Linked DNA regions of Homo sapiens. The protein of the gene in region 4 purifies or fractionates together with the protein of the main gene of each other region. This does not show direct contact. Each region holds a gene or a part of one and is shown on either strand. Other genes may lie near its edges.

Region 1 (4,230 bases), on a different chromosome or scaffold from region 4:
CCGGCCCACTTTTTACATTTTGTGAACACAATCCACACCATGCTGCCCTGAACGACCCCGAGACGCCACATGGCCAATGCACCTCGAAGAGGATTTCGCTCTGAAGAGCAGAAAGGCGAAGGCTTTCCCTTACCACTAGATGGCAGCTGTGGCTTGGCAAGGTTGAAATGTGGCTTGACCTCAAACAGGTGTGGGAGCATGGATTTAAACAGGCACCCAGGAGTTATGGGGCCATATGCCCTACATTATCTGGAATAGTCCTATTTTAAAACTGGTGTCTCATGACATGGACATGAGGGTGATTCCAGTGTCCATGTTCTCAGGCACGGGGTATCATACATGCTTTCTGGCCATGTGTACCCCGTAGACTGAAGCCACCCATCTGAGTGTGCCCTCCTCATGGGACAGAGGCACTGAGGGCAGGTACAGCAACTCAGTCCACAGCCTGGTCCACCGCACACAGCACGCCCTCCGGGACGTCCTGCCAAGCCTAAGTGGTTCTGCAGAAACAGTCTCCAAGGCCTGAGCAGCACTCCAGGCCTCACCTGGCCAGATGTGGGTCCAAGCATGATGCCGGCTGCCTCACCTTTGCCCACTGCTGGGGATGTGCACGCACTGGATGCCCCGCTCCAAACAGGCCCCGAGGAGGACTTCCTTGCGAGATTGCTGGTAGAGCCGGGTGCTTTTAACAGGGTCTTCTTCAGCCCCAACTGGGGCAAAATGTGAAAAAACAGAATCAGCAAAGATCTCGTTATTTACCTATTACTTGTGTCTGCAAAAGTAAGGGGTTTTTGGCTGGGCACGGTGGCTCACGCCTGTAATCCCAGCACTTTGGGAGGCTGAGGCCGGAGGATCACAAGGTCAGGAGTTTGAGACCAGCCTGGCCAATATGGTGAAACCTTGTCTCTACTAAAAATATAAAAACTAGCTGGGCATGGTGGCAGGCACCTGTAGTCCCAGCTACTCGGGAGGCTGAGGTAGGAGAATTGCTTGAACCCGGGAGGTGGAGGTTGTAGTGAGCTGAGCTCGTGCCATTGCACTCCAGCCTGGGCGACAGAGTGAGACTCCGTCTCAACAACAACAACAACAACAAAAGTTGGTGTTTTTACTATTTTAAAATAATCTAATAATTATCATCTTGAATTTAAAGAAGAAAAAAGTCAAGCAGCACTTCTCAAAGTGTAGTCTTCAAACCCCTGCATGAGGACCACATTAGGGAGCTAGCAGAAATGCAGATTTGGGGCCCCAACCCAGACCCCATGAGTCAGCAGCTGCAGGGCCCAGCTTTGGGCAGTTCTAACAAGAACTGCCAGTACACACAGCTTGGTTTACCGCCAATGCCAGAAAATAAGTGGCAAAGATGTGGCTGGTAGTCTCCATGCCTGTGAGGAACCGCAATTTTCTTTCTTTTCCTTTTTTTTTTTTTTTTTTTTAGACAGGGTCTCACTCTGTTGCCCAGGCTGGAATGGAATGCAGTGGCATGATCACAGCTCACTGCAGCCTTGACCTCCTGGGCTCAAGCAATCCTCCCACCTCAACCTCCCAAATAGCTGGGACCACAGGCATGCACCACCATGCCTGGCTGATTTTTATTTTTTAATGGAGATGGGGGCCTCACTATGTTGCCCAGGCTGGTCTCAAACTCCTGGGCTCAAGTGATCCTCCCGCCTCAGCCTCCCAAAGTGCTGAGATTACATGTGTGAGCCACTGCACCCAGCTGCTGTTTTCAAAACATCAACATCTCATGTCATCTGTTCAAGAACTCTACATGAGGGAAACGGAATATCCCCACCTACAAACTGGGGCTCCGAGACGCTGACTTTTCCCAACCCACACAGCTCCCAGGGCAGAGGCTAGCCATCAGTGCACACTGCGAAGCCAGTATTCTTTGCATGTATTTTGCAGGCTGCCTCTTGTGGGTGTATTTTCAACTTTTCCACCTCTTTTTTTTTTTTTTTTTTGAGACAGGGTCTCATTCTGTCACCCAACCTGGAGTGCAGTGGCGTGATTATGACTCACTGCAGCCTCGACCTCCTGGGCTCAAGCAATCATCCCACCTCAGCCTCCTGAGTAGCTGGGACTGCCGTTGCTCACCACCATGCCCAGCTAATTTTTGTATTTTTTGTAGAGATGGGTTTCATCATGTTGCTCAGGCTGGTCTTGAACTCCTGGGCTCAAGTGATCCTCCCACCTTGGCCTCCCAAAATGCTGGGATTTTAATCCAAAGCACTTGTACACACAGCTGCCACCTCATTCCCAGCAACCACAAGTTTGGGCCCCAGCAGCCAACTCACCTTGTTTGGAACAGGGATCGCCCGCTTGCCCTGGCCCAAGTGGCTTCCGGCGGCCGGCACATTGACAGCACCCGGGGCAGGTTTGTCAGGGAGAACATCCCGGTGGGATTCCTTCTCAGCTGGGATTTTTGTCCTGGAAGGACTAGCTGGAATCTCTTTCTTGGGCTGAAAATTTTAATTTGAACTGTGAGAACTGTCTAGTGCTTAACAATGTACAGAGATACTCAGGCTTCCATTCAGAGCGAGCCTAGGCCCCATCTTCCCCAGTGCTACACATGCCCCTCCATTCATCAGCCAGATTGAAGGGAACAGGGCAAGCAGTTCGCATCCTCCACCAAATCACTATGGACATAAGTGATGATGGATTTTGCTTCCTCATTAAAAACAGCATCAAATGATACCTACACAGATCATTAATAGGAGAGAGGTTCTCTAAAGCCATTCCCCAGTCAGGATCCTTATTTAAGAATGATAATGAGAAAGCTGGTCTAGTTACACAAATTTTAAAATGCTGTACAGAAAGGACTCATCCATTAAATGGTCATCTCTACCAGAGAAGCTGCTCAATTGCAATAAATCTTCTTGGTCTAGTACTGAAAGCCATTTTCTTTGGCCAGCAGAGTCAAAAAATAAGTTCTTGACATATTTAGGGACAAGGGCATTCATGGAACTAATTTATACTTACATAAATAGCCCCCTTATAACAGGAGAGTTAATAAGGTAACAGCAATAGAAGCTCAGAGTGGTAAAGACGCAGCAGTAACTTTTTCCCTTTATAGCATTTCTAAAAACTGAGATACTTCTCATAACATAAAATTCACTATTTTAAACAGTATACTTCAGTGGTTTTTAGTAGATCTGTTATGTTGTACAACCAGCACAAGCTAATCTTAAAATATAGTGGTGTCCCAAAAAAGAACCTGTACTCGGCCGGGTGCAGTGGCTCACGCCTGTAATCCCAGCACTTTGTGAGGCCGAGGCGGGCAGATCACCTGAGGCCAGGAGTTTGAGACCAGCCTGACTAATATGATGAAACCCTGTCTCTACTAAAAATACAAAAATTAGCCGGGCGTGGTGGCGGGCGCCTGTAATCCCAGCTACTCGGGAGGCTGAGACAGGAGGACTGCTTGAACCCGAGAGGCAGAGGATGCAGTGAGCCGAGATTGCACCATTGCACTCCTGCCTCGGCAACAAGAGCAAAACTCTGTCTCAGAAACAAAACAAAACAAAACAAAAAAAAAAACAACCTGTACCCATTAGCGGTTCTCCCCTTTCCCTCATCCTCCCCAGCCCCACCTAGGGAAGCACTCAACCACGCCTCTGTCATTGGCCTGTCATAGTCATTTCATATAAATGGAACCATACGACATGGGACCTTTTGTTATGGCCTCTCTCACTGAGCAAAATGTTTTCAGTGGTGCCATCTTGGCTCACTGCAACCTCCACCTCCTGGGTTCAGGCGATTCTCCTGCCTCAGCCTCCCAAGTAGCTGGGATTACAGGTGTGCACCACCATACTTGGCTAATTTTTGTATTTTTTTGTAGAGACGGGGTTTCACCATGTTGGCCGGGCTGGGCTCAAACTCCTGACCTCAGGTGATTCGCCCACCTTGGCTTCCCAAAGTGCTGTGATCACAGGTGTGAGCTACCACGCCCAGTAGTGTTTCTTTTTATTGCCAAAAATAAACCATTGTTTGGATAGACTGCATTTTCGTTACCCAATCATCATTTGCTGGATGCCTGGGTTGGTCCTACTTTTTTGGCTGTTATGAATAATGCTGCTTCGAACATCTGCATGTGGATTTTTCTGTGGATATGGTTTCAATTCTCTCAGGTCTGTGTACTAAGGAGTGGAATTGCTGGGTCCCATGGGACCCTCTACATTTATTTTTTTGAGGAGCTGCCAAACTGTTTCCACAACAGCTGCCCCATTTCAC
Region 2 (4,230 bases), about 130 Mb from region 4:
CCAGCATGAAACGTTAACCTATCAGCACTGCTGCTTAAGGAACATCAGGGGAAATGTGGGGCTTTTCCAAGATGGCTTATAAATCCCCCCCTTGAACTGCATGGCTCACATCATTCCAAATGAACCCCAACTGGCAGGCTGGGATGTCTGGGAACTACCACTCATTTCCCAGAGGCTCAATTAATCTGGTTGCTGCATAATCACCTTTTTCACCAGAATAAGGGTTGTGTTGGCACAAATCAATGCTCCTACCTTTACCCTTGTCAGGTTTGTATTCTCCACCCCCTACTATGTCTTCAAGATCCTTGTCTGAAAAACCTGGAGAAAATAAAACATACATTTCAACAACAAGAAAAAAAAATCAGCAACAAGAAACTTGTGCTAATGTTGCCCAAAATTCAGAAAATGATTCCCAGTTCCACTTAAGAATGCCCTTCATGAAATTCTAAGAGGTCCCCCCAGACCCCCTCCCACTGGTGTACATGTCCCGCATAATGTCCCACCACTCTGAGTGTGAGTGGAACCATGGATAGGATGGCTATATCACTCCCGTGATTAGGTTAGATTACATGCCAAAGGTGAAGGGATTTTGCAGAGGTGATTAAGGTACCAAATCAATTTGACTTTGCATTCATCAAAAAGGAGATTATCCTAGATGGGCATGACTTAATCAGGTGACATCCTCAAAAGCAGGTTCAGGCCTTCTCTGAGCTCAGACATGAGAAGCAACAGAGTCGGTCGGTCTCTCCTCCTTTCTCCCCCTACCAACCCGTCTGTTGGTCATTCTCCTGCTAGTCTTGAAGCAGCAAGCAGTCATTATTCCTATAGCTGCAAGGGAATGTACTGTCAACAAGCAATTGAGCTTGGAAGGGAACCCAACTTCAGACGAGACCCCAGCCCTCACCAACACCTTGACTGCAGCTATATGAGCTCCTGAGCAGAAAACTCAGCTTAGCTGTTCCTCAACTCCGGACCAAAGGAAACAGTGGGATAATAAATGGGTGTTGCCTTAACTCAGAGTTTCTGATTTTTGTTATGCAGCAAGGAAACTGACACAAGGAAGCAGAAAATTTATGAACGGGTAAAAGGTCCACTGAAAGGACAAGATAGTCCCACGGAACCAAGTGTGGAAAGTTCACTGATAAGAGTTTCACACTCCACACTACGCTTAACCTGTAACAAACAACCGCTTTTGTTGGGGCCAAGTTTTGGTGTCCTATCCGAGAAGATTATCCACAAGGATCTGAAAAGTCTGTGAAAATATTCCTCCCTTTCCCCACTGCCTATGGGTGTGAGGCCAGATTTCCTTCATATACTTCAACCAAAACAACATCTCACGATGGAATAAAGTGCCTGTGAGAAGCCAGCTGCTTCCATCCAGCCAGACATGAGAGAAATCTGCAAAAATGTAACAGCGTGCCGCTCTCCTCAATACAAGTTTTTGTCTTGCCAAGCATAGTTATTTCTCATAAAAATGTTATTTATGTTAAATGTATGGGTTTAATGTTGTTCATTTTAGATTGATTAATAAAGTCTTTCAGTTTTAAATTCTAAGATGATGAGTATTGATAAACGTGACCCACATAAGCAAAATCTCTCTTGAGATCTCAATGATTTCAGGAGTCCCCAGACCAAAAAAGTTTGAGTACCACCATTATAGGGTTCTCCAGTGGCTTGAAGTGCCTCCAGCTCTGCCAGGCCCAAGCTGGCTCTGGCTCTGTGGGATGATGTAATTAATGAGACAGAACCAGACCAGGTGGGACTCACCTCCTCCTCCAGCAATTGGTTTCCTGCGGCCATCATCTCGATCATTTCGATCATCCAGGGCATCAGCCAAGTCAAAATCATTTCCTTCATGGGGTCCCAAAATAAAAGAAATACTCAATTAGTTCATCTATGGGTAGCTCATTTGGATCCTGTCTCAGAGGGAGCCCCATGGGATCCTTGCCTTACTACTCTCCTCAGAGCGGCCACCTTACCTAAAGTATTTGCTGGAGCTCTGGTGGTTACTGGCCTCTTGGTCGTGGTGGTTACATGGTTCCATCTCTCTAAAAGGGGAAGGGAGGACAGCAAAGGGAGCACATTTAGGAACAAAATGCAGCAGCCATTCATGGCTCAGGGAAGTCACATCATGAATATTCTTGTCTTGGTCCTTGAGGCTCCTATAGGACCTCTGCAGAATCACTTTGAGACGGATGACAAAGAGATATAAAAGGCTTAAATGAGGTGGGTTCTGTTCACTTTTCTTCAGGGGATGGGGGTTATGAGGCAGACATAGTCCCACATGTGGCCAGGTAAGTGGCAAAGCTGGGACTTGAGCCCAGATCTGCGGGAGATGACCACATGGACCGAGGAGTTCTAGAGCTTGAGCTCCAAGCCTTGGTTCCACCACTGTCAACCTGGCACTTGAACTATAGCTAATCCTGCCCAGGGATGGACAGATTGAGGATGCATTCCCAGTGGACTGTGGTAGTATCTTATACACGGAAAGTGCTTACAACACACACATATATAATTTTATATAACTGTGGTTACTATTATAAACATCAGGTCTCTGGGCTCAACCAGATTCCTTTCAAATATGGACTTCTTTCACACCAATTACACAGATGGCATTCATGAATTTTCCAAATGATTCTTCTCTTGAACTTCAGAAGACTGTGCTGTAACTGTTCCCACTATTGAAGTTAATAGAGGGAAAAGACAGAGACAGTGCTGTATACAGCAAGCACCTGGGAGAGAAACAGCGATGTATCTGGGGAAAAAACCTAAATGAGTTTTACAGAGCAATAATGTGATATCCAAACTGCCTAGGGACATTTAAAATGTATTGCCTATCATTTTTCGATAGACCTTTGGTGTTGTCTGTGGATCAAAGAAATGTAGGTCTGAATCTTCTGCAAAGAAAATACAAAAACAATACAGTAAGTCAAGTCATAACCCAACAGTTCTCAGATGGAATGAAGAGGGATATTATAAAATGATAAAAGGATCAATCCACCAGGAAGACGTAACAATCCTGAATGTGTGTGCACCTAACAATAGAGTGTCTAGACACATTAAGTAAAACCTGATAGAGCTAAAAGGAGAAATAAGCAAATGCACATTTATAGTTGGGGACTTCAACACTCCACTCTCAGCAATTGGTAGAACTACTAGACAGAAAATCTACAAGGATATTGAAGGAGTGAACAATAATCAACCAATGGGATTTAATTGGCACAACAGGACACACCAGCCAATTACAGCAGAGTAAACAATTGTTTAAGCACTCACAGAATATTCACCTGAGATCATATTCTGAACCAGGAAATAAACTTCAACAAATTTAAAAGTATTGAAATTATGCAGAGAGGTATCATTGATTATACTTAATTCAAATTAGAAACAGAGAAGAAACAACAGAAAACAAGAAAATCTCTAAACATTTGGATATTAAACAACATATTTCTAAATAAAACAAGGGTCAAAGAAAAAGTTTCAAAGGAAATTTTAAAAAATACATAGAACTGTGTGAAAATGAAAACACAACATAGCAAAATATGTGGGATCTAAAGCAGTGCAGAGAGAAGTTTATAGCACTCAATGCATAAGTTAGACATGAAGAAGAGCCTCAAATCAATAATCTAAGTTACTAATTCAAGATGCTAGAAAAAGAAGCTAGCTAGATACTAGAAAAACAAAACCAAAGCAAGCAGATGGAAAAAATAAACACAAGAGCAGAGATCCATGAAACTGAAAATAAGAATGCAATACTAAAAAAAAATCAATAAAACCAAAAGTTTATTTATACAGTAAAAAGGGATAAACCGCTAGCCTTACTAACAAACATAAAAGTTAAAAAAGATGATATGCCAATAAAAGGACTGAAATGGGACACTGTAGATCTTGTAACCATTAAAAGAATAATAATGGAATAATATGAACATTTTTTAGCTCACATATTTGACAACTTGGAAGAAATGGACCAATTTCTCAAAAACCACCAACTATCAAAATACAACCTAATCCTGTGTTCATGGATTAGAAGACACTAAATTGTTAAAATGGCAATGCATACTATCTAAAGCAATCTACAGATTCAATGGAATCCCTACCAAAATCCCAATGACATTTGTTGCAGAAATAGACAAATTCATCCTAAAATTCACATGGAATTTCAAGGAATCTCAAACAGCCAAAACAATCTAGAAAAAGAACATAGAAGAGTCACACTTCCTGATTTTAAAA
Region 3 (4,230 bases), on a different chromosome or scaffold from region 4:
GGCTGCTTAAAATAAAAACACTCTTTCTTATTAATTAGTGTGTATTTGAGATTTAATTTCAGTCAATTATAAAATTGATTTTCTAAAAAGAAAATAACAAGAATATATTTGTTTTCTTATGTTTTGGGGCTATAGGAAATTTATTTGAGACTGTAATATGATTTTGAACAGAATTTAAATTCAAATTTAACTCCCTTTAATCTTTTTTTGACTATAGGTTTCAAGAGTTCTTTTTATTTTAGTAAATTAGGACTTTCTCTGTGAGCTGCCTGTTGAAATAGCACCACATGCAATGCATTAACTGTTTTAGGATTATTTGTGCTATTAAGTTGAATGTCCATTCACATTCATTATAGGTCTCTTTTTTCTTTGGGGATGAATATTTTTTCAGGTAATTCTTTCAGAATCAGCTAACAGGATATTCCTCGCTGAGAGCGGAAGGAAAATTTTATCAGCTTTAATTGTGAAAGCACGAAAGGTAAACTTGTTCTGTTGGCAAGATTTTTACCATTTACAAAAGTTGTTTTTACCCTTTGAACTGAAGATTAAGACATTAAATTTTTGATAGAAGAAAAATTTTTGTGGATAGTTGAAAAGGGCATTAAGTTATGCTCGGGTTGAACTATGTATAAAGTCCACACTATTTCAACCAAGTTGTTTCTCATAAATTATTTCCAGTTTGCCATAAACTCTGTAAATGTCATGGTGAGAATTATCATTAGATCTGCTGCTATAACCATCACTGTTATTATTACTAATGCCTCCTCTTTTATTACCTCAATCCTGTTCAGGAAGAGGGTTACAGGAAATAGCGTAGGTCTCAGAAATCTGGAATACAAATTGAACTGCCTCATCTTCATGTAGTTGAATGAGGCAGAAGCAATGACAAGAACTTCATTCAGACTGTAAGGAACCACCTTACTTTATGCAAGGTTTGTCCAGATGATGATAAAACAAAACAAGCCTTCCTTGAGCCATTTGCACACCTAGTTTTCAGACTCAATCCCTTTGAACTTTAATTCTTTCATTTATATAATAGAATTGTATTTATATTACCTCATTTCAGAGGGTTTTTAGGATGATTAAATAAATGATAAATGGGAAGCAACTTAAAGAATAAAGTGTTAAGTAGTGTAAAGCTAAGTATATGTAAGGTGATACTATTAATACATGCAATTCCCAATGTAAGTCTTGTGTTGCTTTCTTGGCCTTCTCATGACAGATAAACTCAGTGATTTGAACTAGGGTTCCTCCAAAAGAAGCAGAACTGCAACAAAAGCCTCACATAATGTCTGCTATAACCAAATTTTCATTTTAATTACTGACCAAAATAGGCATACATATTTGAGTAATAAATAGTTTGCTTGTGACATTTTACTGACATTCTTTATCTTGGCTTCTGCAAAATGTTGCAATAGCAAAGTAGTAAACCAGATAAATTTGGCATACCTTTAAAATGTATTTTAGTTCAGTTACCTAGTAGAATTAAGATCTACCAGACTTATTTGAAGAGTAACTTTCTTTGTAGCTTGTTATAAAGTTGAGTTTAGGGTTAAAATGTGTTTTCTTCTTCAGAATCCAAAGAAGTTTGAAGATGTTTTTGATGAAATGATCTATTTTTTAGAGCAGACCGATCACTGGGGTAGTACTGAAATGGAACTTGCTGCTAGAGGGGTAAATTCAAATTTTTTGTGATATTTATTTTTCTTAGTTATTTGCATGTAATTTTATATGAGTTGAGACTACTGTTTCATTGTCCTTGTTAAATAAAGCCAATTGTATGGTTGTGGGACATCTTTTTTTCTGACGAAGTCATAAACCACACTCCTTGTACGTTGGGGCAGTAGTTGTAAATTGTTTTCTAAGAAGCCTTTTTTGCTGTTGTTGGCTCCTTGCTTCCTTCCCTCCTGTCCTCCTTCCCTTGTTCCCTCTCTTCCTTCTCTCCAAAAGTCATTGGCAGGCCCCTAGCAGGACAGGAATGGTGGCCCATGCAAGGACAGCTTTGGGTAGTACAACAGCAGCAGCTCAGTAGGGCTGGGGAATTGGCTGTATACACAAGACTGAACAAATAAGTATACTGAGAAAAATCAGAGCCAGCTTTTCCCTGTGAGAGAAGGGAGGTATAAAATGCTGGGATTGGAATTGGAGCTGTCAGTGTGAGTTCACAGTTTATAATATATATGTAGATACAGATATAGAAATAAATATCGGTCCAGGCATGGTGGCTCACGCCTGTAATCCCAGCACTTTGGGAGGCTGAGGCGGGCGGATCACCTGAGGTCAGGAGTTTGAGACCAACCTAGCCAACATGGAAAAACCTTGTCTCTACTGAAAATACAAAAATTAGCTGGGTATAGTGGCTCACGCCTGTAATCCCAACTACTCGGGAGGCCAAGGAACGAGAATTGCTTGAACCTGGGAGGTGGAGGCGGCAGTGAGCCAAGATCGTGCCACTGTACTCCAGCCTGGGTGACAGAACGAGACTCTGTCTCAAAAAATATATAGATATAGATATTGGTCAGGCATGGTGGCTCACGCCTGTAATCCCAGCACTTTGGGAGGCTGAGGCGGGCGGATCACCTGAGGTCAGGAGTTCGAGACCAACCTAGCCAACATGGCAAAACCTCATCTCTACTGAAAATACAAAAATTAGCCAGGTGTAGTGGCTCACGCCTGTAATCCCAACTACTCGGGAGGCCAAGGAATGAGAATTGCTTGAACCTGGGAGGTGGAGGTGGCAGAGAGTCAAGATCGCGCCACTGTACTCCAGCCTGGGTGACAGAACAAGACTCTGGCTCAAAAAATATATAGATATAGATATCGGTCCGGCATGGTGGCTCACGCCTGTAATCCCAGCACTTTGGGAGGCTGAGACGGGCAGATCGTGAGGTCAGGAGTTTAAGACCAGCCTGACCAACATGGTGAAACCTGTCTCTACTAAAAATACAAAAATTAGCCAGGCATGGAGCGCATGCCTGTAATCCCAGCCTGGGTGGCAGAGCGAGACTCCGTCACACACACACACAAAAGGAATGAAATCCCAGCACTTTGGGAGGCCGAGGCGGGCAGATCACTTGAGGCCAGGAGTTTGAGATCAGCCAGGCCAACATGGTGAAGCCCTGTCTCCACTAAAAATACAAAAATTAGCCAGGCATGGTGGTGCATGCCTGTAATCCCAGCTACTCAGGAGGGTGAGGCAAGAGAATCACTTGAACCCAGGAGGTGGAGGCTGCAGTAAGCCGAGATCGTGCCAGTGCACTCCAGCCTGGGTGACAGAGCAAGACTCTGTCTCAGAAGCAAAAAAAAAAAAAAAGAGTGAGTTTACAAGCAGCTGAAAGGCCTTCTAGGCAGAGAAAACAGTGGATACAACAAATACATGAAGACTTAATTTTTCCTTTTCTAGTGTTCCCTTATTCAGGAAATGAAATCAGTATCCATTTACTTCTGCAGGCCAGCAACCTGAGACTCATCCTTCACCTCTCCCTGATGCTCACCCATTTTATCATATTCATCTCTAATTTTGTCAGTTTTAACTCCTAAATATCTTTCAGTTTCTTCGACTTTTCTCTCTTTCTGTCACCCCTCTTGGCCTAAGTGCCTGTTGTCTTTTCTCTGGGCTACATCAGTAGTCTTTATATTTCCCGATTCCCTGCTCACTCCTTTCCTCCCTGCATTCATTCTTTCCCCTGTTTCATTCTCCACATTTCTGCCAAAATGATACAGCACACTATACTTTTTCCTTTATTGTGCTTCACACAGTTCATAATTGGATATTTGCAGGATTATTTTGTTGCTGTTTTCCCCACTATACTCTAGGCGTCTAATTTGCTTACTCTAGAAGTTTGAGCACTTGGTACAGCATGTAGTATGTAGAGTGTGTATGTATGAATGAATGAAAGAGCAAGATGTTCATGATCTGGTGGGGAAGACAGGCACATATACCAGTAACTAAATAACAAGGCAGAATGAGCATCCTGGATGTTATAATAGAAGCGTGAACAAAGGACTCCTAGAATAGAGAGGAGGAGAGATTATTTTCACTTGAGATCTAGGAAGGAGCAGCGATAATGTGAATTCGTAATTTCTAGTGGCGAGCTTTCATATTTATCTCTCCTTTTATTTTTTATTTTTGAATAAGCTGATTAAAAAAAACCCCTGCTGTTATAAAACCATAAAGCCCTGGCTCAGATTTTATTTCAGCTCTATGTAATAATAATTTCTGTTTCAACT
Region 4 (4,960 bases):
TGGCGTGGATTCGGTGGTTTCGCTTAAACGGACGGTTTATTCCAAGGCCAGGGGCTGCAATGACACTATCTCCCAGGAGAGAATGCGGAAGGAGAAAAGGAGAGGAGAGCAAAAGAAGGGAAGGTGGAGGGTGGGAGGGGGGAGGAAAAAAAAGACGGAGAAGGTGGGATTCCAGCTGCCCGGACGCACGCCGCAGGCTCTGAGATCTCCCTCCGGCTCCTTGGCCCGGGACTTTCTGCGCCCTGAAGAAACAGGCCTAGCTCGCCGGCCTCCCGGGCCACCCGCGCCGCCGCGGCCGCCCTTCCGCGCGGGACTCAGCTACCCGCGTCTGGCCAGCGCCTGCGGGTGAGAGTGAAGGGCGACCGCCTGTTGATTTCGGCTCCACGGGCGGGTGTCACCTGCCAGCAGCCCCACATCCTGGCGCGGCGACCCCAGCTGTCTTCCCCGCGCCCCTGTAGCCTCTGGCCTCAGGGAGCCCCCGACCCACGACCCTGGCGCGCGGCGCAAGGCGATGCCCAAGCCTGGGACCCACGCCAGCGCCACCGCCTCCAAGCGGCGACCGAATTACTCCACGTGACGCTTCCACCCCATGCACACAGCACCGGGACATTAGCTGTGGCCGGAGCCGCCCGGGGCCACCGGACACCACCCCCACGCCCACCGCCTTGGAGCGCCCGCGAGCTTTCCCGACCGCCTCCCTGAGGGGTCTGGCTCCAGGCCCGCGGGGCCAATTCCGGATTTCCAGGGTTAGAAATGAGCCCACCTGGGCTCACCGAGCGCCGCCTCCTTCTCCCAAGCCCACTGCTCACTCCTCGCACCACCCCAGCCCAGACCCTCTTCCAGCCTCTCCGAATCTCGCAACTCGGTCCTCCAGCCACGGTTCGCCTGGGTTTACAAGTCACTTGTCAGAGGGAAAAAGTGGAGGGAGGGGAGAGACAGAACTTTAAGATTTTTCTCAGAAAGAAATGATAAAGTGTGACCCGGAGGTGGCGTAACATGCCCTGGTTCCATTAGGTAAACTGAGTCACTAACTCTGCTTCAGTGCGCTCGCTGTTTATTTTATTGGTTTGTTATAAGAAACTAAATTTACTCCGAGTCTTAATTTTCTGTAAGATGATTTTTTGTTAAGCAGCTGCGCAGTTGGATGAATCTATTATTTCTTTGTTCTCCCAAAGAGTGATCATTGAAGCTGCATCCAGTTTTATTTTCACTGCGCTAACACAATACATCCCTCCTTTGTTTCTTTGTCTGTGTGATTATACAGACTTTTTATTTCCTCATTCGATGTTCATTAAAGAAAGGGAGTTATAAGATGAACTGTTTCTTTTATTTCGTTGTCTTGTACTGCCGTGTAGATCGGGGCTTGCACATATGGGGGTGTCGTTGGCAGCGGGTCACTTGAGTGACAAGGAAGATGGAGTCTGGGGCAGAAGAAAGAATTCTGTGCACCCAGAGGGCCTGGTGGCTCCAGGGCTCCCATGGGGATCAGGGCTGTGTTCCTCAGGCTGCCAGGTTGGGGGGCATAAGGAAGAACTTTTGCAAAACTTAAAAAGTCGTCCCTGCTCTGTACCCTACACCTGTACATATTTGCTCGCTTACCACCTATGGTGGGACTTGTTGCAGCCTGCAAATGGTACTTTTACAGCTTTCATTCTCGGTTGTCACGGTTGTCGTTACTGCCACTGCCTTCCCCTTTCCCATTAAGTTCCAAGTCAATACCTTCAAGACCCACATTTTTTTTTTTGAGGCTCAATTAGAGAGTATTTTCTTTGGCTACAGTCTCTGAGGTTGGGTCAAAGAAAAAGATGTGTGTAACCCTGTTTGACTCCTGCCTCCTCCCTGCCCCCAGCCTCTGTGTGTATGAGAGACAGACAGACAGACAGACTTCCGAGGCTGCGCGTTACCTGCCGAATGCCGGGCTGATGAAAGCTGGGTGTCGGAACACTGCCGCTCCGAGGAAAGTGCTCAGGCCCAGCGGCGCCCCGCTGGGCGGCAGGCTGGCCGAGCCCGGAGGCGGAGGTAGGCTCGGGAAGGCGGCGGCGGCGGCGGCGGCAGCGGCAGTCCAAGCGGAGTCGAGCGCCGGGTGGTGCGGAGGGAAGGGGCTGGCGTCCAGGTAGGGGCTGAGCGGGTGGGTGGCGGAGAGCGGCCCCGGGAAGGGCAGCCCAGGGGGGTGGGTCTGCGCGCCTGCCTTCTCCCGCTTGCGCCACTTGGCCCGACGGTTCTGGAACCAGACCTGCAAGGCAGAGAGAGCCCAGGGTCGGCGCGGCTCGGCCCGGCGGGCGCACCGGGCCCCTACCCGTCCCTTCCCTTGGCGCGCTGCGGGGCCCCCTTCCTTTCCACCGCGGCCCGCGCCCACCTGCCCCTCTTTGGCCTCAGGTTGTTTTCGGACGCGTCTGGGGCCAAATGAGCAGTGAATAGGAGCCGCAACTTCAAGTCAGCAGGAAACAGGACAAGCAAACCCTTTCTGCCGGCATTCCACCTGGGCCAGTTTTCCAAGTTTAAGGAAAGTGATTCAGTGTGTTTAGAGTTGGGGAAACCAAAGTTTAAACGTCTGTGCTGACGCTTGCTAGGATCTTTAGGCAGGTCACTTAAACCTCTCTGAACCTCAGTTTTCGAATCTGTAAAATGGGGATAATAAAACTTCACTCATAAGGCTGTTATGAGAACTGGGTAAAATAAGGCAAGTGAAAGCATGCATTCAATGGTGACTCTAGGGAATGGGCAGCCACCAAGAGATGAGGGACATGCTTGTTTTACTGCATATCAGCTATTTTCACCTATTTCAGATTTACGCAAGAGCTGGCAAAATTCTTGCTCTGTATGGAAGAGGAAAGTGGAAAGATAGTTCATTTATTCTTTCCAGAAACATTTATTGAACACCAAAGAGCACTATGCTGGGTTCTGGGGTTCAGAGAGGGATGAGAGGGAGGGAAGAAAGGCTCGAGTTAATTAGCAAGCATACATTTCAGGGGGTCAATCCTCTATGAAATGAAACAGGGATACACAACCTGCTCTTGGCAGGGGATCCCTGCAGGACCCAGTTCTATGCAGGAAGGCACTGACTACATGGATGAAGCAGGCAGCAATACCTGGGCGCATAGAAATCAGAGGGCATGATAGGTGTAGACTTTTCACATCTTCAGAGCTAACAAGTCTTTTATTTCCTTTTGGAGATGTGTTTTAAATCGGCTATTTAAATAAGATAGTTTTAGGCTTGGAGGGAGGTTTTCAGCCTGAGGTATTTTCCTAATTGCTAATAGAAAGCGGTTTTAATGGAGACCTTTACCTGAAACATGGCAGCTACCATCATCTAAAAATAAACCCCAGGAGCATGAAATTATTTTTATGTGACCTGCTCATCACACCCACAGCTGGGAAGATATGCTCCTTCTCCCCTGAAGGCATTAATATTTTTAGGGCTGGGTTTATAACTGCACACAAGTCTGAAAATTAAGAATGAACTCCAGGGCTATACAGAGTTATATTAAAATATAATGTAAATTATCCCAGAGGAATATATTTTAAAATGTGAAACACATCCATATTTTTCAAATCTACACACTGGGGCTTGTTGTTACCAGCACTAGCATCTAAGCTTGGTTTGACTTCTAGACAGCCCCCCAGGGCAAGAAAAATCAAGAATCCAAATCGGTCAATTACTTCCAAGTCGGCCAAAAGGGGGCCCATTCACACCATTCCACAGCCTTCAAAATAATCTATTTGTGAATTTCAGAAACACTTCAGTGTGGAAACCCAGAGGCTTGAAAAAGTAAGACTGTAGATGGGACCGGACTGGGTGGGCAGCTTTTGTGTAGCCAAATCTGTCTAGACAAGAATATCCGCCACTCCTTGATCGCAGTGAAAGAAGAAGGGGAACTGGGGGCAGTGGACTCAGAATGCCCTCAAAGAACGTGGAAACCTTTTTACAGACAGATCGTCTCTCCCGGCTCAACTGCAATTATCAAGATGTCCCCCTGCAATTCCTCATTATTGAATTAATACCTCTGAGGCCCCCCAAAGGTAAACGAAAGGACTCTAATAATTCATATTCACTTAATTACATCTTCTCCAGTGAATAGGGGGAGAGGAGAAAGGGAGGGGGCGCTCTCTTTCTTTTTAAAAGTTATTTAACTTTCCCACGACTTGTTCCCCTGAGCTGAAAATACGGAGTTGCTGTCACATCTCTGTTTGACAATGGAGAAATGTGTCAACAGAAAGGAGGGGACAGGCCTCATCATTAGCCCTCTAATGCAAGAAGCTGTTGTGTATTAAATGAGCCATATGGAATTTATTGTGCTTTATCAGCGCTTGATTTTGACTGTAAAGTGATTCACTCAGCTCCTAACTCGGGGACATCTGTTTTCTGTTGGCCATCGGGGCTGCTCAGTGTTGATCGTCTCTTTGGTTATGAGGCCTGGGTTCGGAAATGCACTCTGGTATGGGGCTGCAAACACCTTTAATAGCATTGCACTCACTCCCTATTAGATCAATGTGGGTTCATTGCTATAAAAAATGGGAAATCAAATAGCATTAGCCAGCTCCTTGTGCGGGGCGGAGGGGAAATCAAACAGCATTTTGCCTTCAAATGGCCCTGTTTGTTCTAGCACTAAGTGGGCTTTTATGAAGCCCGATTGGAGACTTAATCGCAGCCAAATACCTGCTTGGAACTGAGCGGATTTGTCTAACAACCAAATCCATGCTCCATCCCATTATTTCAATCAGGAGAAGTAGATCGGTGGATTGTTTCCTATAGGAGCTTTGGGGCTAGGGGGTCCCAAACTGCAGTCTCAGGGACTCTAAAGCCCTTGTTCTGATCCTGGACTCCTTCCTTGGGCTCCCAAACCCAGAAACCTCCCGCTTCCACCTCCCATGTCTTAAGTTTTAAATATCTTTGTGTGTGAGAGAGTGCTTGGGTCTACTTTTCTGATCCTGCTTCTCTTGGTTTTGTGAAGGGGATCTC

Evidence for each region.
Region 1: the proteins of ARX (region 4) and GTSE1 purify together in Homo sapiens (affinity purification with mass spectrometry; one large-scale study listed by BioGRID and IntAct). This does not show direct contact.
Region 2: the proteins of ARX (region 4) and CD99L2 purify together in Homo sapiens (affinity purification with mass spectrometry; one large-scale study listed by BioGRID and IntAct). This does not show direct contact.
Region 3: the proteins of ARX (region 4) and MIGA1 purify together in Homo sapiens (affinity purification with mass spectrometry, with the first as the bait; one large-scale study listed by BioGRID). This does not show direct contact.

What each region holds. Positions count from the first base shown.
Region 1 is NC_000022.11:46,310,370-46,314,599, reverse strand, and holds part of GTSE1 (G2 and S phase-expressed protein 1), read right to left. Parts: intron 2,460-4,230; coding exon 2,295-2,459; intron 711-2,294; coding exon 587-710; intron 1-586. UniProt on the Homo sapiens protein: May be involved in p53-induced cell cycle arrest in G2/M phase by interfering with microtubule rearrangements that are required to enter mitosis. Overexpression delays G2/M phase progression.
Region 2 is NC_000023.11:150,793,439-150,797,668, forward strand, and holds part of CD99L2 (CD99 antigen-like protein 2 isoform 1 precursor), read right to left. Parts: intron 2,049-4,230; coding exon 1,980-2,048; intron 1,852-1,979; coding exon 1,768-1,851; intron 319-1,767; coding exon 253-318; intron 1-252. UniProt on the Homo sapiens protein: Plays a role in a late step of leukocyte extravasation helping cells to overcome the endothelial basement membrane. Acts at the same site as, but independently of, PECAM1.
Region 3 is NC_000001.11:77,859,649-77,863,878, forward strand, and holds part of MIGA1 (mitoguardin 1), read left to right. Parts: intron 1-391; coding exon 392-478; intron 479-1,575; coding exon 1,576-1,674; intron 1,675-4,230. UniProt on the Homo sapiens protein: Regulator of mitochondrial fusion: acts by forming homo- and heterodimers at the mitochondrial outer membrane and facilitating the formation of PLD6/MitoPLD dimers. May act by regulating phospholipid metabolism via PLD6/MitoPLD.
Region 4 is NC_000023.11:25,005,207-25,010,166, forward strand, and holds part of ARX (homeobox protein ARX), read right to left. Parts: intron 2,234-4,960; coding exon 1,905-2,233; intron 1-1,904. UniProt on the Homo sapiens protein: Transcription factor. Binds to specific sequence motif 5'-TAATTA-3' in regulatory elements of target genes, such as histone demethylase KDM5C. Positively modulates transcription of KDM5C.